Homo sapiens: one gene and its partners. The protein of the gene in region 1 purifies or fractionates together with the protein of each later gene. This does not show direct contact. Each region holds a gene or a part of one and is shown in the gene's direction. Other genes may lie near its edges.

Region 1 (3,500 bases):
CTCTGCCTCAAAAAAAAAAATAAAATAAAGTAAAAAAAGACTGCCTGGAAGGAAGGAGGCTGGAAGGGCAGCTAACATTTCCTGACTGCTTCTCCTGTGCCAGGATCTGTCGTACCCCATTTGCCCCATTTAATTCTCACATCAACCCTGTGAAGTGGTTATCCCCCTTTTACAGATGAGGCCCCCAACCTCAGGGAGGTTGAGTAAAGCATGGGGAGGTCATATAGCTGGTAAACACAGACTGAGTCAAACTCTGCCCAACCCTAAACTCTCTCTACTACACCAGTGGTGTTTTCTTTTTTTTTTTTTTTTTGAGATGGAGTCTCACTCTGTCACCCAGGCTGGAGTGCAGTGGCACAGTCTCGGCTCATTGCAACCTCTGCCTCCCAGGTTCAAGTGATTCTCCTGCCTCAGCCTCCCAAGTAGCTGGGACTATAGGCGTGTGCCACCACACCCAGCTACTTTTTTATTTTTAGTAGAGATGGGGTTTCACCATGTTGGCCAGGCTGGTCTCAAACCCATGACCTCAGGTGATCCGCCCACTTCAGCCTCCCAAAGTGCTGGGATTACAGGCGTGGGCCACCGCACCTGGCCTACATCAGTGGTTTATAAAAACTATTTTAAGTGGTGGTAATCCCAACACTTTGGGAGGCCAAGATGGGAGGATCTCTTGAGGCCAGGAGTTTGAGACCAGCCTTAGCAATAAAATGAGATCCTGCCTCTACCAAACAGACAAAAACCAAAAACACTCACACAAAACAATAAGCATTCTTTTATTAAAGCCCAATATGTAAAAGATAGTAGCACGGCTAATCCTCCCTCTGACATGAGGCATTGCCTCTAAAGCCCTAAGGCTCCCGGGAGAACAACTTGAAAGACCTGTATATTAGTTTTCTATTGTTTCTATAACAAATTACCAAAAACTTAGTGGCCTAAAAAAACACAAATTTATTATCTTATAGTTCTGGAGGTCAGGAGTCCAAAATGGATCTCACTGGGCTAAAATTAAGCTGTCAGCAGGCCTGAATTCCTTTCTAGGGGCTTGAGGAGAGAACTTGGTCTTTGCCTTTTCTAGCTTCTGGAGGCCTCCTGCATTCCTTGGCTTGTGGCCCCTTCCTGCAGCTTCAAAACCAGCAGTGGCTCGTCGAGTCTTTCTCACATGACATCACTCTGATGCTGACTCTCCTGCCTCCCTTTTCTGTGTTTAAAGGGCCTTTGTGATCACATCGGGCCCACCCAGGTAACCCAGGATAATCTCCCTGCTTTAAAGTCAGCTGATTAGCAACCTTAGTCCCATTTGCTGCCCTAATTCCCCTTTTCCATGCAACTTGACATATTCACAGGTTCTAAGGATTAACACTTGGACATCTTTGGGAGCCTTTATTCTGCCTACCACACCTTGCACTACCCTCTTGCCCCCAACCAGAAGTGCATAGATGGAGGCAGGAGAAAGAAGAGGAGGGAGGCCAGACTTGGAAAGATGAGGCTTGTCTTTGTGTTTCCTTTCATAGAGAAGTGCCCAGGTAAATCAGGAGGTGGCCCTAATGTCCTTGGACCTTAGCAGCCTCTCTTTTGCCTCAGATTCCTGGGGCTGCAAAGCCTGGGGTCAATCAGAATAGGAAGCCAGGCCTCAGGCAGAGCAAATTTTGGGTAGTTCCATCAACTGGCAAGAGCATTCCCACTTGCTTTGGGGTAGCCTTCCCAGTTGCTTTGGGGGAACCAGATGAGCTGGGCTCATCTCCTTTCTAAATCACAGAAGATTCAGATCTCAGGAGTCCATTTGGCTGGGTCAGTAGTGAGTTGGCTCAAATTTGATGGACTGATACACAACTCTCAGAGCTCATTTCTTGCCTCTGACTCTTCTTTTTTTTTTGAGACAGTCTCCCTGTGTCAACTAGGCTGCAGTGCAGTGGCACGATCTTGGCTCACTGCAACCACCACCTCCTGAGTTCAAGCAGTCCTCATGCCTCAGCCTCTTGAGTAGCTGGATTATAGGCACTTGCAATCATTCCTGGCTAATTTTTGTATTTTTAGTAGAGACGAGGTTTTGCCATGTTGGCCAGGCTGGTCTTGAACTCCTAACCTCAAGTGATCCACCTGCCTCAGCTTCCCAAAGTGCTGGGATTACAGGCGTGAGCCACCATGCTTGGCCCCTTTGAGTCTTCTAATAATAATAATAAAAATAATGGTAATGGTGATAGTGGTTGCCATTTTGGGGGTGCTTTCATGTACTAGGCCTGTGTAGGGCTTTAGGGCTTTTTTTTTTTTTTTTTTTTTTTTTGTGGGGTGGGACCTTGCTTTGTGGACTGGGCTACAGTACAGTGGTGTGATCATGGCTCATTTCAGCCTCCCGAGTAGTTGAGACTACAGACATGCGCCACCATACCTGGCTAATTTTTAAATTATTTTTAGAGACAAGGTCATGCAGTGTTGCCCAGGCTGGTCTCAAACTCCTGGGCTCCAGTGATCCTCCTGCCTTGACCTCCCAAAGTGCTGGAATCACAGGTGCAAGCCATTGCTCTGAGCCTATAGGGCTTTTTATATACACTTTATCCTGTAATCTTCACAGCCACTCTGTGAGGTGAACGGTTAGTCCTAGTTTATAGATGAGGAACCCAAGGCACAGACGTTAAGGAATATGCTCAGAGCTCATGAGTGGCAGGGCTCAAATCCATACCCAGAGCTGTCTCGCAAGGTGTTCTGACTCTGGCTCAGTTGTTCCTAGATGAGAGCTTTCCTGCTCCAAATTCTCCCCTCCCTGTAGCAGATCAATTAAGGACTGCTTCACTTGTTATGCCAAGTGCTGACACCACAAAGAGGGTGAGTAAGTTCCTCCAGGAACTCAGGCATATAGAGACAGAAGGCCGGTTACCCAAGGAAGAACTTGTCCCTCCTTCTGAGCCTTCCTTGACTTCCCTGATGAGGTCCCTTTCTCCCTGTGATATGCTTTCCTTTGTAACAGTTAACACAGTTGATAGGTCACATTTATTGAGTTTAATTATTCAGTTAATTGTTATCCATCCCTTGGCACTGCCCTACAAGTTCTGTGAGGCACACAGATTTTGTCTTCTCCTCCTTTACTGTAACTCCAGTGCCTAGTGTGGAGTGTAGTATGGAAGTATGACTCCATAGAAGTATGAGTACTGTAGGTACTCAGTACCTATTTGTCCTCTGGGGGAGAGCAGTGGAGATTTAGAGCAAGAGAGCCTCTCATCTAGGAGCAACTGAGCTAACTGGAATGAATGAATGAGGGCCAAAGAAATGGTAGAGTCAGGTGCTTCAAAATTAATGAAGGGGCCTGGCGTGGTGGCTCACACCTGAAGGGGCTCACACTGTGGCTCATCCCAGCACTTTGGGAGGCCAAAGCGAGCAGATCATCTGAGGTCAGGAGTTCGAGACCAGCCTGGCCAGCGTGGTGAAACCCCATCTCTACTAAAAATACCAAAAAAACTAGCCGGGGCATGGTGGCAGATGCCTGTAATCCCAGCTACTCAGGAGGC
Region 2 (2,983 bases), on another chromosome or scaffold:
GATCACACCACTGCACTCCAGCCTGGGGGACAGAGCGAGACTCCGTCTCAAAAAAAAAAAAAAACTAGCCAGGTGGGCATGGTGGTGGCGCCCATCTGTAGTCCCAGCTACTTGGGAGGCTGAGGTGGGAGGATCGCCTGAGCCTGAGGGGGATGTTGCCGTGAGCCAAGAGCTTGTGACTGGACTCCAGCCTGGGCAACAGAGCAAGACCCTGTCTCAAAAAAAAAAAAAAAAGAAAAACCGCTAGCAATGGAGATGGGAGGAGGCTTCAGAGCCCAGAGAGCAGCAAGGGTTACACAGGGGGGTAACAAGGGTTACAGCAGGAGGGGGGTCGGCAGAGCCCCACACGTGTGAGCTGGGGCAGTGGGAGGGCGTGGGTGAGGCAGAGCGCTGTCCAGGTGCTGGTAGGCCGGGGGCGGGAGGAGGCAGGTGGGGGGGCACGGTCAAGATGTATGTGAGGGTTGTGGCACTGGAAATGCAGGCATAGAGGGGCCAGGAGGATTAGGGGGTGCTGTGTGAGCGAATGGGGGCTCCGAGAGAATTTACCCAAGGACAGGAGTGGCCTGGAGTGCTGGGACCCTCAGGGTCATTTGTTCCTTGAGGGCTCTGTCCTGGAAGCATAGCCCAGGTCCTGTAGGCTGGGTGGCAGAAAGCCAGGACATGAGGGCACCGAGGCCCTGTGGAGATAGAGTGGAACCTGAGGAGGAGGTGGAGGGGAATGGGGCAGATGTGGGGCCACACCAGGAGTGTGCTGCTGAGTGAGAAGCAGAGGCCACAGATGGAATGCTGAGAGCTCTCTGAGGCCCACATGTTACAGCATCTGACCACACAGAGCTCCGGCTGCCCTGGTAATGGCAGAATCTGGGGTGGAGGACATAAGGGGGGTTGTTGGAGTGATCCGGCTGGGGGGCATGGAGGCCATAGGTTTCCCACAGGACTCGGGTGTGGAGTTCTCCAGGCTGTGGGCCAGGCCCTCTCAAGCTTGCCTCTGAGCTGCAGCAGGCACCCTGGGTCCTCTGGATGCCTGTCCCCCAGCCATCCAGACAGCCTGTGGGGACAACCACCACCAGATTCACTCATACCCACAGGGAAGGGGAAATAGAAAACCCCAGAAGCACAGAGGGGCAATGCTTGTCTTGGTGAGAGTCTGGAGTCATTGAGGGAAAAATAAATTCAGTCAAGCGTTCTATTTAAGTTTAGAGAAACTATACGTTTTAAAAGTTGTCCAGAGCATGCATGTAAGATGACGTTTGGAGTGTGGAAGCCATCTCACCTGAGCTGTGCTGCCTGATACAGGAACCTTGAGCCACACATGGCTGGCATGGTCATTGCACTGCGTGTGGTATGCACAGCAGATGCCAAATGACCGGTACAAAAGGGAATGCAAAAAACCCACCACACCTTGGGAGTCCACAGCTACTGGATCTCTTGAGCTCAGCAGTTCAGGACTAGCCAGGGCAACACAGGGAGACCCAATCTCTACAAAACACAAAAATTAGCAGGGCATGGTGGCACACATCTGTAGTTCCAGCTACTTGGGAGGCTGAGGTTGGAGGATTGCTTGAGCCTGGGAGGTTGAGGTTGCAGTGAGCTGTGACTGCACCACTGCACTCCAGCCTGGGTGAGAGAGTGAGACCCTGTCTCAAAAATAAACAAAAAACCCCAAAGTGAATGAGGCTGGGCATTGGTTCACACCTGTAATCCCAGCACTTTGGGAGGCTGAGGCAGGATCATCACTTGAAGCTCGGAGTTTGAGACCAGCCTGGGCAAAATAGCAAGACCCCACCCATTTCTACAAAGAAACAAGAAAAAGAACAGAGGTGAATGCAACATCTTATGAATAACTTATGTACTGATTACGTATTGAAATAATACGTTGGATATTTTAGATTAAAGTATTTGAGCTAATTCTGCATTTTCTTTTACTTTTTATTTATTTATTTATTTTTGAGACAGTCTTGTTCTGTCACCCAGGCTGGAGTGCAGTGGCACACTCATAGCTCACTGCAGCTTCAACCTCGTGGGCTCAGACAATCCTCCCACCTCCTCTTGAGTAGCTGGGACTACAGGTGCACACTACCACACGTGGCTAATTTTTTAATTTTTTGTAGAGATGGAGGTCTCACTGTGTTGTCCCAGCTGGTCTCTAGCTTCTGGCCTCAAAGGATCCTCCCGCCTTGGCCTCCCAAAGTAGTGGAATTACAGGCATGAGCCACTGACCCCTGCTGAGCCAGGCTGTTTTCAACATTCAATGGTCATTGACTATCTTTGGCGTTTAGGAGGGCCCTCCAGGGACCAGGCGTAGGGGCATCAGTCACCCCGCCCTCACACCCCAACCTGCAGCCACACTTGGTTCAATCCCACTGTCTAGCCCGTCTGACTCAGTAGCCCCTCCCGAGGGAGCAGGGCTAAGCAAAGCTGGTTTCCCCACTGCAAGGCACTGCAGGCCATTCTATTCTGGGCCTTCTCATCCTTCATAAAGTGAGGAGGCCTGAACAGGGCTCCCCACTAACCCTGAGAGCGCACAATTCCTGAAGATTTCCAGGATTTTCTTAGTATCAGTTATGGCTTAAAGTTATGTTGGTTTCACATTTCCAGGGTTTGTCAACCCTGTCAGATTTAAAGATAAGCATTATTAGCCAGGTGTGGCCCCATGCTTGTAGTCCCAGCTACATCGGAGGCTGAGGCAGGAAGATCCCTCCAGGCCGTGAGTTTGGGGCAGCAATGAACTGTGATTGCATCACTGTGCTCTAGACCAAGTGACAGAGCAAGACTCAGTCTCTAAACCCCCCTCCCCCACCACTCAAAAAAAAAAAAAAGCATTATTTGCTCTTTTCTGCTTCCCTCTCATCCTTGTTTCCAGAAGGGACTGGGTCATTGCTGAGGGGAGGAGAGGAAGCTCAGATGGCAGCAAGCTGAAGGGAAGCCGACTCTGAGTCAGGCCCAAGTCTGCGGCCTGCCATGCTGCGTGCTGTGGGGAGCT
Region 3 (3,500 bases), about 45 Mb from region 1:
TCTCTGCCCCCTTCCATGAAATTTTAATATTGTAGATATCCTCTGCAACTGTTTTACATATAAAAGAGAAAGATTTTCTCAAAGCTTCCCACCCAAGAGCCAGTGTTTGCTCCCTTGGGGGAGAATCTCCCCTATGGAGAATGCATAGTCTAGAGGTCTTTATAAGAGAGGCCTTCCCTTACAGTAGCCATAAGGGTGAGCACAGGAATCCATACAGATACCATGGAAAGACATAAAGAGGCATTCTCTGCTTCACGTAAATATGGCATCAGCATAGAACATACACTAATGTTCCCATAGAGGCAAGATTAAACACATAAGTTTACTCAAGAGAGTCCAAAGAACTATTTAAACATTTAAAGATTTCCCACTGAAGTCTTCTGCAAGAGTGGGTGTGAGAGCCACCCAGAGGTAATAACTTTCTTTTAAAGAGCGGTTCCATTTATGCTGGAAACAGTCTTGTCGTGTAGGTCCATGAAGGTTTACATAACTCAAAACTTAATATTAAGAACATGCTGTAATTCTGATTAATATTTTTAGCTAATCAATTTATACTTACACACGAGTCTGATTGCAGTTAATCCCAGCATGTTCAGTTATTGACATAGGATCCTTTAATTCCAAAATGTCGGGACACATTTAATAAGATGAGTGGGTTGCTTTTTTGTTTTTATAGGTTTTACAGGAAAAGTATATTCAAACCCAGTATATTCAAAAGCCATACTGTGGATGGCTTTTTTGGCCCATGGCCTTGGGATCCACATGTCTGAAACTGAACTCATTTTTTCTCCCTTCTGTTTCCCTTTTCTGCTTTTTTTTTTTTTTTTTTTTTTTAGGTTAATTGTGTTCATCTGCAGATGAGTTTTGTAATCATTTTGTTTTGTTTTGTTTTGTTTTGTTTTGTTTTGTTTTGTGTTTTCTGTCCTTTCCTTCCCTGTCCCTTACCACTTCCCTTCTGCCCCCAAGAAATAAGAACCTTTGCTGGTTCTTCCTACTTTGTTTCTGGTGTCTAGCTTTTTGTCAGCCTTCCTGTGTCTCTGCTGTCTATTGAGCAATGTTAACTGTGTGCCTGGTCTTGTGCAGTAGCCCCTTGTTATTCTTCTGCTTCTGTTTTTCTCATCTTTCAATCCAACCCTCATATGCCAGCAGGTGCATAGTCTTAGAACAGCTCTTTCACCTTGCCACTGCAGGTTATCAGGAACCTAGATTCCCATTGTGGACAACATTTGTCTAGAATTAAAAGCTCATTACAATTTGGCCCAGCCTACCACTTTAGCCTCACTTCTGTTCTCTTATGGCATCACTTCCAGTTTAGTAAAAATGCTTTGTGCTTTGTTTTCCTACTTCTGAACACTTGTCATTTAAGCTGTACCCCATTTTTACCCTCTGTCTCCTCCATAATGCCTCTTTTTTTTTTTTTAACCTTTTAGCCCTTAAAACTCACTACCCTTATCTGGGCCATTCCTATAATACAGATCCCTTAATATGACAGTTTTCCTCTTCTTCCTGAATATGGGTGTTTTAAGAGGACTTGCCTGTCTTACATCTTTAGTATACCTCATAGCTTTAGCACCATGGCTTGTACTTTAAAAATATTGATTGATAATGATTCTAGTCTTTTCTGTGAATTTTTCACTGTTTTATTTCCATCTCTCACTGGTTTGACCAAGACGTTATTCCTCAGTTTGATTCAGCAAACTATGTAGTTCCTGCTGTGTCCAAAGTGCTAAGGAGTACAGAGATAAATACATCTTATCCTCTGCCTTCAAATGGCCCCCATTCAATGAGGGAGCCTGACTGAGGGAGCTGTCTCAGACCCAGTGCTGAGAAACAGCATCATGTAGCTCATCCCCGCTGGTTCAGAAATGCAAGGCAGGGAATATGTGGAGATGTTGTGGGAAGGGAAGGCAGAGAGCAGGTGATGGAAGGATTCATTTGCAAAGCTGAGAGTTTATGGTTCATTTTCTAGTGAAGAAGAGAGAGTGAAGAACTTTGAACAGATAAGACATGATCTCACCTGAGAGGCCTTAAACATTGGAAATAGCATAAGCTTTGAAATCAGAGCTGAGTTTGAATTCCATCTCTAAAACCTGTGACTTTGGGAAAGTCACCAAGGTTTCCTGAGCCTCACATTCCCTATTTATGAAATATCAGGTAGGCGAATCTCACCTTGCAGGGTGGTTGTGAGGGCTAGAGAGTTGTTGGGAGACAGTTTTCTATGGGTCTTTCACGTTTTTGCACACCTTGCTAGCAAAGGCACTGGCTGCCTTTGTTCTGGACTTTTTTTATACAGTAACTAGCTTTGGAAGGCAGAGATGATGTTACCCTCTGGAGCAAAGGACAAATTTGTGTATTCTTGAGTATAGTAAAGGTAGTGTCTCCTTTCAGGGCTGAAGTCAGACATGTCTTCTGCCCCTTGTAAGAGAATAGTGTTCCCTGAGCTTGGGGTTCCTCGGCTGTGATGCAACGCCTCTGCCTGCACAACATCCATGTGAGCCCCTCCATGTCATGGCTATGGGACTTGCGGGGCAAGAGAAACAAACACATGCTTTCTGCTCATAAGGTTCTTTGTTTCTGAGTCTTCTTCATGGGAGTGAAGATTTCACAGGAGTCCGTGTCTTCTGTCAGCACCTATGAACCTGTGGCCAACTAACTTTGTTAGCTTGTAAGTAGGGTAAAATCTCAGACCCTTCACGGTTCTTAACAAGCATTTAGGTCATATGAAATGCAGGGTAAATATTTGATAAATGTTATAATAATAACCATTATTCTTTATCAGTGATCATTTAGGCATTGTGGAAGATGATGAGTTAGACATACCAGTTAAGAGGCCATAGTCCAAGATGATGAAAACATAAAAACAGATATTGTCAGTGGGAACCGAATAGAGAGAAGAGAGAACTGAGAGAAACTAATGAGACATTGACAATATTGGGGGATTAACTGGATAGGAAGAAAGAGAATCAAGGATGACTTCAAGATTTATGGTTTTGGAAAGAAACAGTAGCCATCAGTGAAGACACGATACATGAAGAGGGGAAGATGAAGTTTGTAAGAGAGGGTGACAAGCTTGGGGGAGAGGGGCAGCCAGGTGGTAAAGTGAGTAGGCAAGGAGTCTAGAGCTTAGGGGACGCTATTGATGGAGAGAGAGGTTTGGGAGTTAAGAAAATCTAGATGATCATTAAATCATAGGAATGGATGAGTCTGCACTGGGGTTTTCACCGTGCTCAAAGGGTTCTGAAAATGTTCTGTTTGAATTGCTAATAGAGCTGGTTTCTATCCCCAGCTCCACCATCACCCCGTCCATTAACCAGAACAAAGACATCAGGCCTCCAGCATAGCTGCTTGGATTAGAGCCAAGTGTGAGGATAGATCCCCTCCCACTGGGCCTTAACCCTGCTTCCAGGTGCTGAGTTTGACAAGGTTTACTTTGAGAAGACAGTTCCTTTGCTGAAAGCAGGACTGAGGAGAGACTGAGGAGTGGAAAGAGAAAGGGGCTA
Region 4 (3,500 bases), on another chromosome or scaffold:
GGTGTTTGGTACAGGGTGTAGGGGTAAAGGCAGGTGGGAACACTACAGAGCAGGGATGATGGGCCATACTGCCATTTTTGGCACCTAAGTCAGGGCTGCAAATCCTTAATAGAGTTGGAATGTGCAGCCATTGACCTCATCAAGGGCTTTGGTTTATTCTGGCTCCTTGGCTCAGGAAAATTCTCCCCCCATTGCTGTGGTTCTTTGCTCTCCTTCCAGGATCCTGGAGGTGATGGGATAGACTGGGGAGACGATGCTGTTGCTTTGCAGATCACAGTGCTGGAAGCAGGAACCCAGGGTAAGTGCACCATCCCCTGCAGCCCTGGCAAAAGTGGGGTGCTCAAGGGCCCCCACGTGTCTAGAAACAAAAAATGCAGCGCTAAGATGAGGCTTCTTGCACATTTAACTGTTTCTCAAAACCTTGATGAGGATGTGAGCTGAGGGGGACCAAGAGAGGTTTTTTTTTTTTTTTTGGAGACGGAGTTTCGCTCTTGTTGCCCAGGCTGGAGTGCAATGGCATGATCTCAGCTCGCTGCAACCTCCACCTCCTGGGTTCAAGCTATTCTCCTGCCTCAGCCTCCCGAGTAGCTGGGATTACAGGCATGCACCACCACGCACAGCTAATTTTATATTTTTTTAGTAGAGTTGGGGTTTCTCCATGTTGGTCAGGCTGGTCTCGAACTCTTGACCTCAGGTGATCCACCTGCCTCGGCCTCCCAAATGCTGGGATTATAGGTGTGAGCCACCGTGCCTGGCCCAAGAGAGGTTCTTAAAAGTTGAGAGTTTAGAAACTCTCAACTTTTTAGAGACCACATGTGGGCCAGCTGTTATGGTAGGAGGGCTCTAGGGGGATCGGGGCCCTGGAGTGTGACATGACCCCCGCCCCAACAGCAGAGAAGACGTAGTGGTGTCTGAGCCACTAGAGGGCGGTGCAGGATGAAACTTTACCTCCTGCGGTCCACCAGAGCAGAGAGCCGGCCTTTCTACCCCTCTGAACCCAGCTCTGGTCCTCCTCTCAGTCTGGGAGTTGGAAAGTGGTACCTGATTAGAGCTGAGACACCTGGGACAAGGTAGCCTTCCCCCTTGGATTAGAACAAGAAGTGGCTTTAGCACAGTGAGTCTGTCCGTATTAATCCTCCAGGGCTTCTCACACTTGAGGGTCTTTTCCTTCTCCAGTCCTCTGATCCTTTATCACTTCTCTGTCTCTTCCTGGCAGCTCCAGAAGGTGTTGCCAGGGGCCCAGATGCCCTGACACTGCTTGAATACACTGAGACCCGGAATCAGTTCCTTGATGAGCTCATGGAGGTACTGTCATCTCTGGAAGATGCAGGGGGGAGGCATGGCACCAGCACAGGTGGCTTCACTCCAGATGCCTGACCTGACCCCTCCTGTTTGTGTGAAGGGTGTGAGTGCTATTTGTGTCCTACAGCAGGAGCCTCACGTATTAGATGCCTCCTATTCATCCAGTTACTTATCAGGTACCTCCTAGGCACCTGGCACTACCTTAGGCACCAGAACTTGGGTGGTGAATAAGACAGTCAAAGTCCTTGACCTCATGGAGCTTATATTCTAATGGGGAATGCAGACTGGAAAGAAGATAAATAAATAAAATATGCAGGATGCTAGATGGCACCAAATGCCACGGAGAAAGAGAAAGTAGGGGAGGATGACGAGGATGTTGGAAAGGGCTATGGTTTTGTATCTGGTGGTCAGGGAAGGCCTCATTGAGAAGGTGACCTGTAATCAAGACTGCAGGCGGTGCAGAGAGAACCATGCAGATGTCTGGCAGAAGGGCTTCCCAGGCAGAGAGAGCAAGTGCAGAGGTCCCGAGGTGGGAGCAGACCTTGCACAGTTGACCAGCAACATGGAGGCTGGTGTGGCTGAGGAGAGAGAGCTGGTGGGGAGTAGAAGAGCTCAGAGATGTAGCGTCTGAACCTTGGTTTGCCTCTGAGTGAACTGGGAAGCTGTTGGAGGTTTCGAGCAGGTTAGGAACATGATCTCATTTGTGTTTAAGGACGATCCCTGTGGCTAAGGTGTTGAGCAGCCCAGCGTAAGGAGCCAGCGTTCTTGGACCTTTGTTGTAAGGCTGGGAGGACGGGGTCCTGTCTTTGTTAATCTCTGTATCTGCTCCCTTCCCAGTAGCCTGCTGGTTCGGAGAGCCTCCTGAAAGTTCTGTCCTCACCCAGTTCTCTCCTCTTTCTGCCCAGAGGCTCCTCCCAGCCTCAAGGGGAGAGGACAAAAGATATCTGTGAAGTTTTAACGGCAGAATAGGATTGATAAGTTAATATGGCTGGCTCTTGTATTCTTTTCAGCCTTGCCTTAATCCAGTGCTTCTCAAACATGTATTTCTGTTCCCTGAATCTCATTCCTCCCATGGAGACAAAATAAATACCTTCCCTGGGCAGAGAGAACCCTTTGAGTCTCTGTATTCTCAGTTATCTGATCCCAGGCTGGGGAGAAAGGACAGAGGTCTGGGGTTAGGATGAGATAGGAGGTGGGGACTGAAGGGTGACAGTAGTCTCTCCTAGCGCTTACAGTGTTCAGAGGAAACTCCTTACCCAGAGTCTAGCCCTCATGTCTCATTTTTGCATTTCGAGTAGTCCGAGGGCTTAGATTCTGAGTTCTTCTCTCAGTTTGAACCAATTTATCTTCTTTTTTTCTTTCTTCCTTTTTTTTTAAAAAGAGTTTCTCTGTCGCCCAGTCTGGAGTGCAGTGCAGCAATCATAGCTCACTATAACCTCAAACTCCTGGGCTCAAGTGATCCTCCCGCCTCAGCCTCCTGAGTAGCTGGGACTACAGGCATACACCACCATGTTTGGCTAATTTTAAACATTTCTGTAGAGACAGGGTCTCATCGTTTCCCAGGCTGGTCTTGAACTCCTGGCCTCAAGCGATCCTCCTGCCTTGGCCTCCCACAGTGCTGGAATTGCAAGTGTGAGCCATCATGTACAGCCTGAACCAATCTTTCTTCTGTCCTCAGCTTGAGATCTTCTTAGCCCAGAGAGCAGTGGAGTTGAGTGAGGAGGCAGATGTCCTGTCTGTGAGCCAGTTCCAGCTGGCTCCAGCCATCCTGCAGGGCCAGACCAAAGAGAAGATGGTTACCATGGTGTCAGTGCTGGAGGATCTGATTGGCAAGCTTACCAGTCTTCAGCTGCAACACCTGTTTATGATCCTGGCCTCACCAAGGTCTGGCTTCCCCTTGATGCAAGGCTCTGCCATCTTGAGCAGCTCTGCCTCCTTGTATTCCTCCTCTTGTTCCATGACCCCTTAAACCCCATCCCTGCCTCCTGGCCATTGCCATCCACTGGGGATAGGGGTTCTCTTTGGGACAAGAGGGGGAGGTTTCACATATACAGGAAGAATCTGCTTGCTTCCTGAGTAGGACAGGGGAACTGGGAGTGGGTTTTCCTTAAAAGGAAAGGGTTTAAGGATGTGAGGGTAAGCGGCCAGTTGGGGGTTTGGTTTCCCGAGCCTCTCACCTCCCCAGCAGCTGAATGGGA
Region 5 (3,500 bases), on another chromosome or scaffold:
TCGATAAAAATGGTGGGTGTTTGATTCCAACTCCTTGGTTTATAAAGCCTCGTTTGTTTTTTTATGGATTGCTATGGTTGATTTCCTACTGTTAAAATGTGAATAGTAAAACTTTTTTTTCCCCCTTCAATTTAGTGAATGCAGTAGTAGAGCAGTGTCTATATTCAACAAAGAAGGGTGTTTGGAGATTGTGTTAAAGTATTTAAGTAGGTTTCCTACCAATGTTGACCTGGCTATTTCAGTAGGTAAGTGAAGAAAAGGTGATGACTTATTAAGAATGTGTAGCCTTATTCAAAAATTTTTATGCAGCTTTGGCGTGTTTATTCCACTGGAGTGATTTTTTGTTTCGTTGTATGTGAATGTGTAGCTCAGCACCTGTTTTTTCTGGGTCTTAAATCTGTGATTAATATTAATTCTTTACCTACTCATTCAGTTTTTCTGCTTTTGACTCTGAAAGGGAGAAAGGTAATTATGTGAGGATATGTGGTTTCTAGCCTGTTTCCATTCTTAGCAGCCTTTATTAATTCTTGAAGTTTTCATCTCCATTTACTAAGAAACAGTAACGCACAACTACCAGGCCTTTAAGCCAGTTAATTGGAATCTAAACTTATTTAAATGTATTGTGCTACTATCTCATACGTCCAGCAGAAAACTGACGGCCTGAGTTTTGTTGAGAGAAAAAGAGGAAAAGAAATGATTGAAATTCCACTTAGGCCTTCATGCCTTCCATGAGACAGGGAAGGCAAAGTCCAGCAACTTCAGTGGCTTTGGCTGCCTCGCCTTCTCTTTATTGGGCTGGGGAACCACTGGGGACCCTCAGCTCAGTGGCAGGAGGCAGAAGTCAGAGCATAGGCAACTCAGCAGAATTCTGGGTGGGAGTGGAGAAACAATTGAGGGAGAGCATTTCTTTTCTACCGATCATTACTGCGGGCATCCAGCTGTCCCTTTGTGGAACTGCATTTCTCCTGGGGAGGAAGAAGTGTATTCCCCTGACTGCTGTTTTTCTTGACTCTAATGGATATTTTTAAGAGAACAGAATTGAGGGAAAATAGTAGAATAAATACTACTGAGAAAATTTTAAAAATCATTTCTCTAAATGGAATCTTGGTGGGGCTGGAGAGTTGTGAGTAAATGGGGATTTTAAAAACGATTCAGCCATTTTTAGGAAATTGATAGGTGACTTAATCTCAGAGGACAGTTTTTGTTACAATAAGAGAACTTCAGGAAAGTTAGTTCATATCTTTTACAAGAAAAATCACTTCTATTTTTGTGCCTTTAGTCTTATAGATTTATTTCTGTTTTTAGTTTTTCTTCCCCTTAATGAGCGTTTTTGAAATGGATTAGAATAGTCATTTTGCATTGTATAATAGTGTTTTCCTTCTCCATGTAGCTAGATTAATGATTTTTTAAAATACATTATTACTTTTGCTTCTAAAGTCAAGCAATGCTTACATATAGTAAAATGAACTTATAAGATTCCATCCCATGTATTCATATAACTTTTTTTGAACCTGTATGGTAGCAGTCATGGCTGTTGGCTAAAGTAAATTTAATTAGTTTCTTAATGACAAAGATATTACATTTGGATATATGTACAGAAATGCATATATGTGGATTTCCATATAAATGTATCATCAACCACAGCAGTAGCATGCATTTTGAGTAATTTTGATGGGCATGATTTAATATTTTACACATCTCTTAATTTGCTCATACTTTTATATAAACTACTTTTTTTCTTAAAGAGCTATTGCTCTGCCAGAAATAACCCTAACTTTGAAGGTCATGATAAATTTAAAGGAAGCCAGACGTCCCAAAACCTAAGGCTGTTTGCTACTGGTCCTTGATAAGTACATAAATTGAGGGTAAAATTTTTTTTTTTTTTTTGAGATGGAGTCTCAGCTCTGTCACCCAGGCTGGAGTGCAGTGGCGCAATCTCGACTTACTACAACCTCCGCCTCCCGGGTTCAAGCTATCCTCTTGCCTCAGCCTCCCAAGTAGCTGGGATTACAGGCGTGCATCACCATGCCTAGCTAATTTTTGTGTTTTCAGTAGAGATGGGGTTTTGCCATGCTGGCCAGGCTGGTCTGCAACTCCTGACCTCAAGTGATCCTCCTGCCTCAGCCTCCCAAAGTGCTGGGATTACGGGCATGAGCCACCGCACCCGGCCTGAGGATAAACTTTTATAAACATTTATAGTAACGACATTGCCGCATTTAAGAGTCTTTTTAGGCTGGGCGTGGTAGCTCACACCTGTAATCCCAGCACTTTGGGAGGCTGAGGCGGGCGGATCACAAGGTCAGGAGATCGAGACCATCCTGGCTGACAAGGTGAAGCCCCATCTCTACTAAAAATACAACAAATTAGCCAAGCATGGTGGCGGGTGCCTGTAGTCCCAGCTACTCGGGAGCCTGAGGCAGGAGAATGGTGTGAACCCAGGAGGCGGAGCTTGCAGTGAGCCAAGATTGTGCCACTGCACTCTAGCCTGGGCGACAGAGCGAGACTCCATCTCAAAAAAAAAATAAAAGAGTCTTTTTAATTGTATTTTGTAAAAAGTGTAGATCTGGCTGGGCATGGTGGCTCATGCCTGTAATCCCAGCACTTTGAAGGGCCGAAACGGACAGATCACTTGAGACCAGGAGTTCCAGACCAGCCTGGCTTTCATGGTGAAACCCTGTCTCTACTAAAAATATAGAAATTAGCCAGGCATCATGGCGCATACCTTTAATTCCAGTTACCTGAGAGACTGAGGCACAGGAATCGTTTGAACCTGGGAGGCAGAGGTTGTAGTGAGCTGAGATGCGCCACTGCATTCCAGCCTGGGTGACAGAGCAAGACTGTCTCAAAAAAAAAAAAAAAAAGTATAGATCTGTACAGGATTAGAAATTTAAAAAGAAAAGAAACATGATCTTTTCCAGCACTGATAGTTTGGGAAGCCTCATTTGCGCATATCACCCTGAGATAAAGCATATATATTTTGCAAAACCTACATGTGTCTAATGAAGTGGTAATGATACAATGTTTTATTGATGAGTTATACTGGTGTAAATTATCCAAAGCAGAATTCATTTGTTTCTAAATACTTATTTTTTGCCTCGTAGCATATTGTTTGCAGACAGTGACTGAGGATAACCCAGAGCTGCTGAAGTCTTTCAGTGCTACAGCATTGAACATGCTGGAATCAGCACTGCTTTCTCCTGTCAGTTCCATGGAATCTCTTCTATTGAAGACATTGGTAGCAGGTAAAATTTAGCCTTACGGCATAGTATATTGTTTCAGTAGCTTTTGGTATGGATGTGGTGGGGGCAAAATTTAGTCATTCATTTCAACACATTAGGTCTTCTGTGCTTTTATCTGTTCTGAAAATTTTAATATCTGAGAAGAGACCCTTACTTCAAGCAGTTGTCTATAGTTGTAAATCCTTGTAGAATAGATTTGTTTCGAATTTAACAAACTACTGTTAACCTGATAAAGAGATGCTGTTGTCAGGATCCCCACTT
Region 6 (3,500 bases), on another chromosome or scaffold:
CTTGACACAAACACGCTCACATCCCAGGCTGCATACGTGTTTTGCTTTAGAAATGACATGAAGCCTTTTGACTATTTTTAAGAGAAAGGCAATGGCTGTGATATTTCCCCTGCACCTCCCTCTCGGGGCCACTTGGTTAAATGTCAGGAAAGGGAGAGTATTTCCTGGTCAGGAACATTCAGAGCTTGCTGGGAGCTGAAGTTTTGTTTTCCATTAAGTAGGTATTCGGGGAGTCTATTTCCCTCTGCCTCCTCTGTTTCCCTGGAAGCTTGCGCTTGACAGTTGCAGGGAGGAGGGGTTTGAGAATGAGCAGCCGAGATGCCCACGTATCGCGTGCCCGCTCTAGGAGTGGCGGGGTGGCTATTTTTAGCCATCCCGATTCAGTAGAGGCATTTCAGCGTTTGTTCAATATTTAATTATCCATCTGAAATTGGCCCATGTGGCCTTCAGTTTGGAAGCAGCTCTCTGTGCTGTGATTTCCCAGTTGCATAAATAAGGAAGCAAGGGAATCTCAATAGCCCTCCAAATAATAATAACGAGAAAAAAAAGTAGACTCGATACTCAGCAAAGACAGGCTTGGTTCCTCGGTCTAGACAGACCACCTGTATGTTAGCAGAGAAGCACCACCGAGGACGCCCATCACGCCCTTGGAAATGCGGCGGTGCTCAGTCTCCGAATCTCAGATCCACAACTGCCTGGGTTTTATTGGGGATGGGTTTTCCTCCCTTCGCCAGGTTCCTGTGTTGACTTTGACAGCTGCTGGGTACCTGAGAGGTGGTTTGGGGATTTTGCTTTTGGAAGCCTTGTTAGCTTTTATTTCCCTCTTCTCTTCTCCCTGACAGACAGGAGAGTACTATCGGCATCTGGGCTGTGCTATTTCTTTTTCCTTGGCCTTTGGAGGCGATGTGCCGACATAGTTGTGAAATGAAAAAAGGCAGAGCACAGGGAGGGAGATGTTGGGGCCATGAGGCTCTGCCTTCCTTCCCCAAGCCCCTGGCTGATGAGGGAGAGAGGGGAGAAGAGGAGAGAGTGGGGCCCAAGGGTGCTGGGCAGTCGGAGATGACTCCTTCCTACTGTCCTGCTTGGCATGGAGATTTGTGGACTTTGGGTTCGGAGACTGGAAACCAATAAATTGGTAATCTGGAATAAGCTTGGTTTTTCTATCCATTTACACCTCTATTCTGGGGACACAGAGTTTGGCCTAGGAGCGTGTACAGAGTCCTGACTAGGTCATAAATGCTGTGTGACTGCAGACAAGTCACTGAACATCTCTGGGCTCAGAAGCACATGTAACAGATAGATATGATGCAGCATAGGGTGTCATTATAGGCCAGGAGAATTGTCATTATTAGCTGTTCACCCAAAGTCTGAGGGGTTGCTTGCAAATCAGTTAGGGCTGATCTAGAAAGAAAACGTTTGGGAGGCCGAGGTGGGCGGATCACGAGGTCAGGAGATCGAGACCATCCTGGCTAACACGGTGAAACCCCGTCTCTACTAAAAATACAAAAAAATTAGCCGGGCGTGGTGGCAGGCTCCTGTAGTCCCAGCTACTTGGGAGGCTGAGGCAGGAGAATGGCATGAACCCGGGAGGCTGAGCTTGCAGTGAGCCGAGATCGCGCCACTGCACTCCAGCCTGGGTGACAGAGCGAGATTCCGTCTCAAAAAAAGAAAAAAGAAAAGAAAAAGAAAGAAAACGTGATGCCAGTGGGGACTGGACCCACCTAGGTGGTTTCTCGGCATCCCTACCCTGAGAGGCTGCCACAGGTCTCACTGGTACTTGTTCAGAGCAGCAGAGCTTTAGCGAGCCACCTAGTATGTGTGACCTGGGTGCCAGGGGCTGCCACAGCAGATATAGCCAGCCCCCGCCCTCGGGAGCTCAGAGGCCAAGGGGAAGAGTCTTGGCATAAGGTTAGCAGATGGTGTGACTGGAAAGGTAGGCAGGGCCTTGAGTGGTGAGCAAAGAGGGGAGAACAGCCCCTGGCAGACCACTGGGAATCAAAGGAAGGATTTTGAAAATAACAGGAATGATAACAGTGATCTCCATGTCTTGAGCACTTACACAGCACCAGGGGTTCTTCTAAGTCCTTTACATGCATCCTGCCTTAAATCATCATTCTCCCAGGTGGTGTTATCAGCTCCACTTTCTAGATGAGAAAACTGAGGCTCAGACTGGTTAAGTGACTTGCTGAGCATCACCCAGCTACTGAGTGGCAGAGTCCAGGATGTTTAACCCTCACTATACTTACCAGAGCTGTGATTTAGGAAAAGAACTCTTAACAACCCTCAAGCTAGACTGGTATGGTGCAGGGAGAAGAAAGTGGGAAGAGGGAGCAGGGAGGCCAGTCCGCTTCCTGGGGAATTTTGAAGGAGGCCGGCAGGTGCAGGATGGGGGAAGGCAGAGGGCAGGTGGAGAGGAGCTGGGAAGTTTGGAAGGGCTGACACAGGAGAGAGGATGCCGCCATCTGAGGGCCAGTGCTGGGCTCCTGCCACGATCTCTCCCTGGCCTGCGGTGAAATGAGGACTGTAAGGGCATTGCAGCGAGTTTCCCATAACATCCATTTCACTTCAGTAACCCATTTTGATGCCTCTTTTTTATTCTGAGATGATGGTCTTTGGATTCTTTGGGGTTAGAACATTCCTTTTATGCAATACATAAATGTCTAGTATGCACCATACTAAATGGTGTTCTTTTTTTTAAACATCTATATTTGGCAAGAAAAGAAGTCAGTGGTTCTGTGTGGCCCACCCTCATATTATGCTACTTCATAGTTTTCATTTATAGACATTGAACTAGTTCCTGGAATTCTCACAGGATGGTAGGCTGACACCCACGAAGGAGAAGTCCAGGGGTCGTCCTTACAGCGAGAGGAGTGGGAGCTGGTGGTGGGATAAGGTGGTGGGATAAGGCCCTTGGAAAGGCGTGAAGAAGCGGGAGGATGAGGGTCATTGAGGGCTGGGGTGGGGGATGCCCGGCAGGCTGTGGACATGGCTGATGGGCCTGCCTTGGATGCTGATGCTGCAGGGGTTTTGGCACAAGACTGGGCAAGGGGCTTTTCAGGGAGCAGCTTCAGGAGAAGGCGAGAAAGGTGCTGGAGCCTGCAGGGGATCGATTATTTGGGGGAGAGGAGGTGTGGGGTGCAGAATAGGACAGGATTGGAGAAGTTTGGTGAAAATGGGGGTGCAAGAGAAGCTTGGATTTCCCATTAACTGTCAATACAGTCATGGTTCCACCTGGTATCTAGAAACCTGTTCACAATTGTAGGTTTAGCAGCACACAGGGTGGGGTAAGTGTCTCTCCCCATCAGGAGCAGCCTCTGAACTCTCCTGGGACCCTGAGCTTCAGGGAACCCAGGCTGTGGCCCCCCTCCCCCACTTTGGCAATGCTGTCTGCAGAGGGAAGGGCCGGTTTTACTAGCACAGGGAGTGCTCCGGCTCCTGTGTGTCGGGGAAATTCTGGAAGAGGCTCTCTTCCAGAAGTTATGGAAGGTCCCCGGGAGACA
Region 7 (4,131 bases), on another chromosome or scaffold:
CTCTCGTCCTAATAATTTGTTGCAGAATTTGGGTCATTGTCCTGTAGACTTTTCTGACGTCTAGATATTGCTGATTGCATTGGGTATTTAACATGTTCCTCTGTCCTGTACTTTTTGTAGATGGTAGTTCTATTTAGAGACTTTATCTGATTCTGTTTTGATTTTGGCCTCAGGCATTTTTAAATGGGTTGAAGGATCATATACTTTGACATTCTTTTGGTTTTAAGTAACAGAGAATTGAACTAAATATGCAAAATAGTGAAATTTGTTGCTTCACATAAGTGAAAATTCCAGGGCATATCATGGATTTTGGGCTCATATCATATAATCACATCCTGGTTTTTCTATTTTTCTGCTTGATACTAGTCTCTTCTGAGTTTTGGCTTCATTCTCCATACCTTCTCTGGTTCAAATCCATAGGAAATAAAATTGCTTTCTGGTGGTTCAATTTTGTGTCATTGGCACTCATTGGCCTGGCCTGAGTATGTGTCCATCCTGAACCAATTAATAACACTAAGGAAATATGATATTCGGATTGACCAGATTAGGGTGCCATTGTGAGGGTAGTTTCACAGGAACCACTTCAACTATTACTCAAAGACTTTTAGTCTTCTCCCATCACAGTTGGTTTGCAGAGATTATTTTACCAACAGAATTACTAACGACTTTCTACTATGTCTTTACATACAATAACCATTATTTAAAAACAGTATTTCCACCTAAGTGGAGATGAATAGATTACAGTGTGTTTTGGGTCTAGGGGGAGGTTCCTTAGAACTGTCCCCCAAATTTCTCTCTACTGAGTCGCAGTCACCTACTGTCTCTTATCGGAGAGGTGAGCTCTGTGGAAATAATGGCAGAGCTAAGTTTCAATACAGGACAAAGTGATATGCAAAGGTAGGGAGAAGGGGGAGTGGGTGGCTGATCACAGGCCCATAAAAAAAACACGCAAGACACAGGGTGACAATGCATTTACGGGGTGGGAACACTTCAGGTGAGGTTATCGTGTGGAAGAGCTCAGAAGTGGAACTTGGTCTACTTTACCAGGTTGTTTTTAACGTCAACTGCAAAGTATTAGTAGTTTCACTTTTTGGCGGTGACTGCCAGCATCAGAGCGCGGTAGAAGCTTCATGAGAAAGGTCAGGATACCCTGGACAGGATACAAGAATTCCGCGGACTGCCGCAGTCGACGGGTCAGACAGCTTCGCTCTGCCTGGCCTACCTACGAGTGGCAGAGGCTAACCGGAACCACGCCCCTTCCCGGGACCGGCTCCGCGATTGCGTCACTTCCGGGCCTCAGCGATTCGCCTCCGGGTTAGGCTGAGCCTCTTGCTTGCTGTGACTGGTGGAGCTGCCGCGCTGTCCGCGTTATCTCCTCCCGGTGAGAACGAACCGCAGTGTCCACCGGCGAGGAGCCAGCCCTGTCCCGGTCAGAGAAAGACGACGAGGATACCTGGGAGCGGGCGGCGGCCGGGCTGGGCCGCGCCGGTGCGGGCTGGCGACTCTGCTCCTCCGCTTGCTGCTGTCTCTGGGAACTGGGTGCCAGCGCTGAGGGGCTTCCAGCGGACAGGGACCCCCTTCCCCGGCTCCCCTGCCCACCCTGCCGGGGAGGGCGGAAGATGCCGGTGAAGAAGAAGAGAAAATCCCCTGGGGTGGCAGCAGCAGTAGCGGAAGACGGAGGCCTCAAAAAGTGTAAAATCTCCAGGTACCATCTCCCCCCACCCTTCAAGCTTCCCTCCTCCCTCCTTTGCTGGACAACTGGAGGAAAAGGAGTCGGGCCCGGCCTGCCGGGCTGGGGCTGGAGACAGGTGAGGCCCCTTTGATCGAGCTAGGCTGTAGGTGCCGAACACCGCGAGTCTCCGCGCCCGACCCGACCTCGTGTTCGAGTGTGTGCACGCTGGCGTTTATGGAGAGACTAGAAGAGCCGCCCACGTTAAGAGTCTACGTGCCCTGCAGGGTGGGGAACAGATGCATATGTAAATTGCGCTTCCCCCCACCCCCACCCCCACCCCACAACCGACCCTCGATCCCCTACTCCCGTATCGCTCCTCTGCCTTTTTCTAGACTTAGAAGTGAGTACATATCCGCAGAAGGGTCACTTCTAGAATTTCTTTGTAGAGTGTGAAGAAAGCAGAACATAAGGAATCTTGACAACTGTCTTGGGAATGGTAGAAAGGAAAACTTGTATGCTATAATTGGCCTCCATATTTAGTATTTGGAGTGGCCTAACCCGGAAGGTCCCAGCAGGAGGCCTTTTAAATTGCAGGAGCCCCATTTTCTGGAAGTATAGTGCCTCACCTATGCCAAGTCCCTGTGTGCAGAGTTGGAAAGGCCCTGCATGCTTTTTGTCTTCTAGCATTCAGGACGCTGTTAGCTCTCAGCATAAATTAAATAATTTGTGAGCTCTTGTACTCTGTCCTACTGGTAAGAAAGAAGACAAGGCAGAACTATATAGTAGTAGCTCTTTGATCCCCTTGTAGCATATCATGGAGGCATCACAGCAAAATTTATGCTACAAAAAAACTGCAATTTTGGTTTGAGAAATGGTTTTTTTGTTTTTTTGTTTTGTTTTGTTTTTCTGAGACGGAGTCTTCCACTGTTGTCCAGGCTGGAGTGCAGTGGCGCGATCTCCGCTTACTGCAACCTCCGCCTCCCGGGTTCAAGCGATTCTCCTGCCTCAGCCTCCTGAGTAGCTGGGATTATAGGCGCCCGCCACCACGCCCTGCTAATTTTTTGTATTTTTAGTAGAGACGGGGTTTCACTATGTTGACTAGGCTGGTCTTGAACTCCTGACCTCGCGATCCGCCCGCCTCGGCCTCCCAAAGTGCTGGGATTACAGGAGTGAGCCACCTCGCCCGACTGAGAAATGCTTTTTTAAAAAATAACCATATTAGCTGCCTTTTCATCAATGGTTGGCACTTGATATGACAACTTCAGATGCTACTATTGAAAGGAGACTGTAGCCAGGATTATAAGAAGGAAATAATGATAGAGCTCTCCTTAAAGAGAGATCTGCTTAAACTGTGAGGTAGATGACTTACATAGTCTGCATCTTCTTTTTTGTAATTGGTCGACTTTTTTCCCTCATTACTGTGTTTTGGTAAAGGAGTCTATGGAGTATTAGGCTATTAATGTGAACGATGATACATACACCTCTTGTTTGTCAACATTAGAATTTGACATGGTTACTTTAGTAGCTCACATTTTTATAAGATACAGGCAAATTATTATTCATTTTTGTACTATATCATGGCCATCTTAAGTATATAATGTATTAAAATTATTTAAGTTAAGTACATTAAGATAGCTGAGCAGGCAGTATTATTAGAACTCAGGTGATACTTTGCTCTATCAATTTAAATTTTTAAATATGATACTCTTACTTTACTCAGTTACAGAAGTTCTATCATTTCTATATCATTGTGGTAGGGTAATTATTTGAGTTCCTTGAAAAAAGTTTCTCTGAAGGCCATTAAATTCTAGAGGCCATTTTGAACTTACCAAATTTTAGTTATTTTATGAAAAACAATGAAAATGATTTTATGAAAAAAATGAAATAGAATGAACAGAACCTAGGATTAAATAGCCTTGTCCCAATTATTTGGACTATTATTAACTTTTAGTGTTTTTTTGTTGTTTTTTTTAAATCTGTGTAATTTAATATACCCTTAGGTCCTAAGTCATCATTTATCTTTAAAAATCTATTTAAGCTTAGGTGATAAAACAACTCTTAATATAACATTTTATTTTGAAATATTGATTCATTAAGTATCAAAATATACTTTGTAAGAGTTTGTTTTCAAATATTTATCTATTACACACAAATAGAATTTCTATGCAAATCAATAGAATCATAATAAATATTTATACTTTCCCACCTACTAGGTTGAACTTCTTTGTAGTCTTTTAAAATGTGCGGAAATAACTTACTGATATTTTTGGATTTTGATACTGAGTGAAAAGGTATTTGGGTTTTGTTAGCCGATAATTCTTATGTATAGACTACTGTTTCAAGTTGCAATTACTTAACAACTTCAGTTTTTTTCCAACAATGCCAACCGAAGAAAAAAAAAACCTTTGTTTAATGTGAATGGAAGTTGTTAATTTTGAACTTAGTTTTTCTCTAAGAGT

The links.
Region 2: the proteins of PACC1 (region 1) and MZT2B purify together in Homo sapiens (co-immunoprecipitation; 3 studies listed by BioGRID and IntAct, with this or other methods). This does not show direct contact.
Region 3: the proteins of PACC1 (region 1) and MPZL1 purify together in Homo sapiens (affinity purification with mass spectrometry; 2 studies listed by BioGRID and IntAct, with this or other methods). This does not show direct contact.
Region 4: the proteins of PACC1 (region 1) and CDK5RAP3 purify together in Homo sapiens (affinity purification with mass spectrometry; 2 studies listed by BioGRID and IntAct, with this or other methods). This does not show direct contact.
Region 5: the proteins of PACC1 (region 1) and HEATR3 purify together in Homo sapiens (co-immunoprecipitation; 3 studies listed by BioGRID and IntAct, with this or other methods). This does not show direct contact.
Region 6: the proteins of PACC1 (region 1) and DAB2IP purify together in Homo sapiens (co-immunoprecipitation; 3 studies listed by BioGRID and IntAct, with this or other methods). This does not show direct contact.
Region 7: the proteins of PACC1 (region 1) and DCUN1D5 purify together in Homo sapiens (affinity purification with mass spectrometry; 2 studies listed by BioGRID and IntAct, with this or other methods). This does not show direct contact.

What each region holds. Positions count from the first base shown.
Region 1 is NC_000001.11:212,404,887-212,408,386, reverse strand, and holds part of PACC1 (proton-activated chloride channel), read left to right. Parts: intron 1-3,500. UniProt on the Homo sapiens protein: Chloride channel gated by pH that facilitates the entry of chloride ions into cells upon exposure to extracellular acidic pH. Involved in acidosis-induced cell death by mediating chloride influx and subsequent cell swelling.
Region 2 is NC_000002.12:130,185,262-130,188,244, forward strand, and holds part of MZT2B (mitotic-spindle organizing protein 2B), read left to right. Parts: intron 1-2,983. UniProt on the Homo sapiens protein: Required for the recruitment and the assembly of the gamma-tubulin ring complex (gTuRC) at the centrosome.
Region 3 is NC_000001.11:167,766,982-167,770,481, forward strand, and holds part of MPZL1 (myelin protein zero-like protein 1 isoform a precursor), read left to right. Parts: intron 1-3,500. UniProt on the Homo sapiens protein: Cell surface receptor, which is involved in signal transduction processes. Recruits PTPN11/SHP-2 to the cell membrane and is a putative substrate of PTPN11/SHP-2.
Region 4 is NC_000017.11:47,977,613-47,981,112, forward strand, and holds part of CDK5RAP3 (CDK5 regulatory subunit-associated protein 3), read left to right. Parts: intron 1-219; coding exon 220-298; intron 299-1,216; coding exon 1,217-1,305; intron 1,306-2,980; coding exon 2,981-3,186; intron 3,187-3,500. UniProt on the Homo sapiens protein: Substrate adapter of E3 ligase complexes mediating ufmylation, the covalent attachment of the ubiquitin-like modifier UFM1 to substrate proteins, and which is involved in various processes, such as ribosome recycling and reticulophagy (also called ER-phagy).
Region 5 is NC_000016.10:50,072,470-50,075,969, forward strand, and holds part of HEATR3 (HEAT repeat-containing protein 3), read left to right. Parts: intron 1-135; coding exon 136-245; intron 246-3,101; coding exon 3,102-3,242; intron 3,243-3,500. UniProt on the Homo sapiens protein: Plays a role in ribosome biogenesis and in nuclear import of the 60S ribosomal protein L5/large ribosomal subunit protein uL18 (RPL5). Required for proper erythrocyte maturation.
Region 6 is NC_000009.12:121,658,134-121,661,633, forward strand, and holds part of DAB2IP (disabled homolog 2-interacting protein), read left to right. Parts: intron 1-3,500. UniProt on the Homo sapiens protein: Functions as a scaffold protein implicated in the regulation of a large spectrum of both general and specialized signaling pathways.
Region 7 is NC_000011.10:103,089,361-103,093,491, reverse strand, and holds the start of DCUN1D5 (DCN1-like protein 5), read left to right. Parts: upstream 1-1,331; 5' UTR 1,332-1,619; coding exon 1,620-1,705; exon of another isoform or gene 1,706-1,808; intron 1,809-4,131. UniProt on the Homo sapiens protein: Contributes to the neddylation of all cullins by transferring NEDD8 from N-terminally acetylated NEDD8-conjugating E2s enzyme to different cullin C-terminal domain-RBX complexes which is necessary for the activation of cullin-RING E3 ubiquitin ligases (CRLs).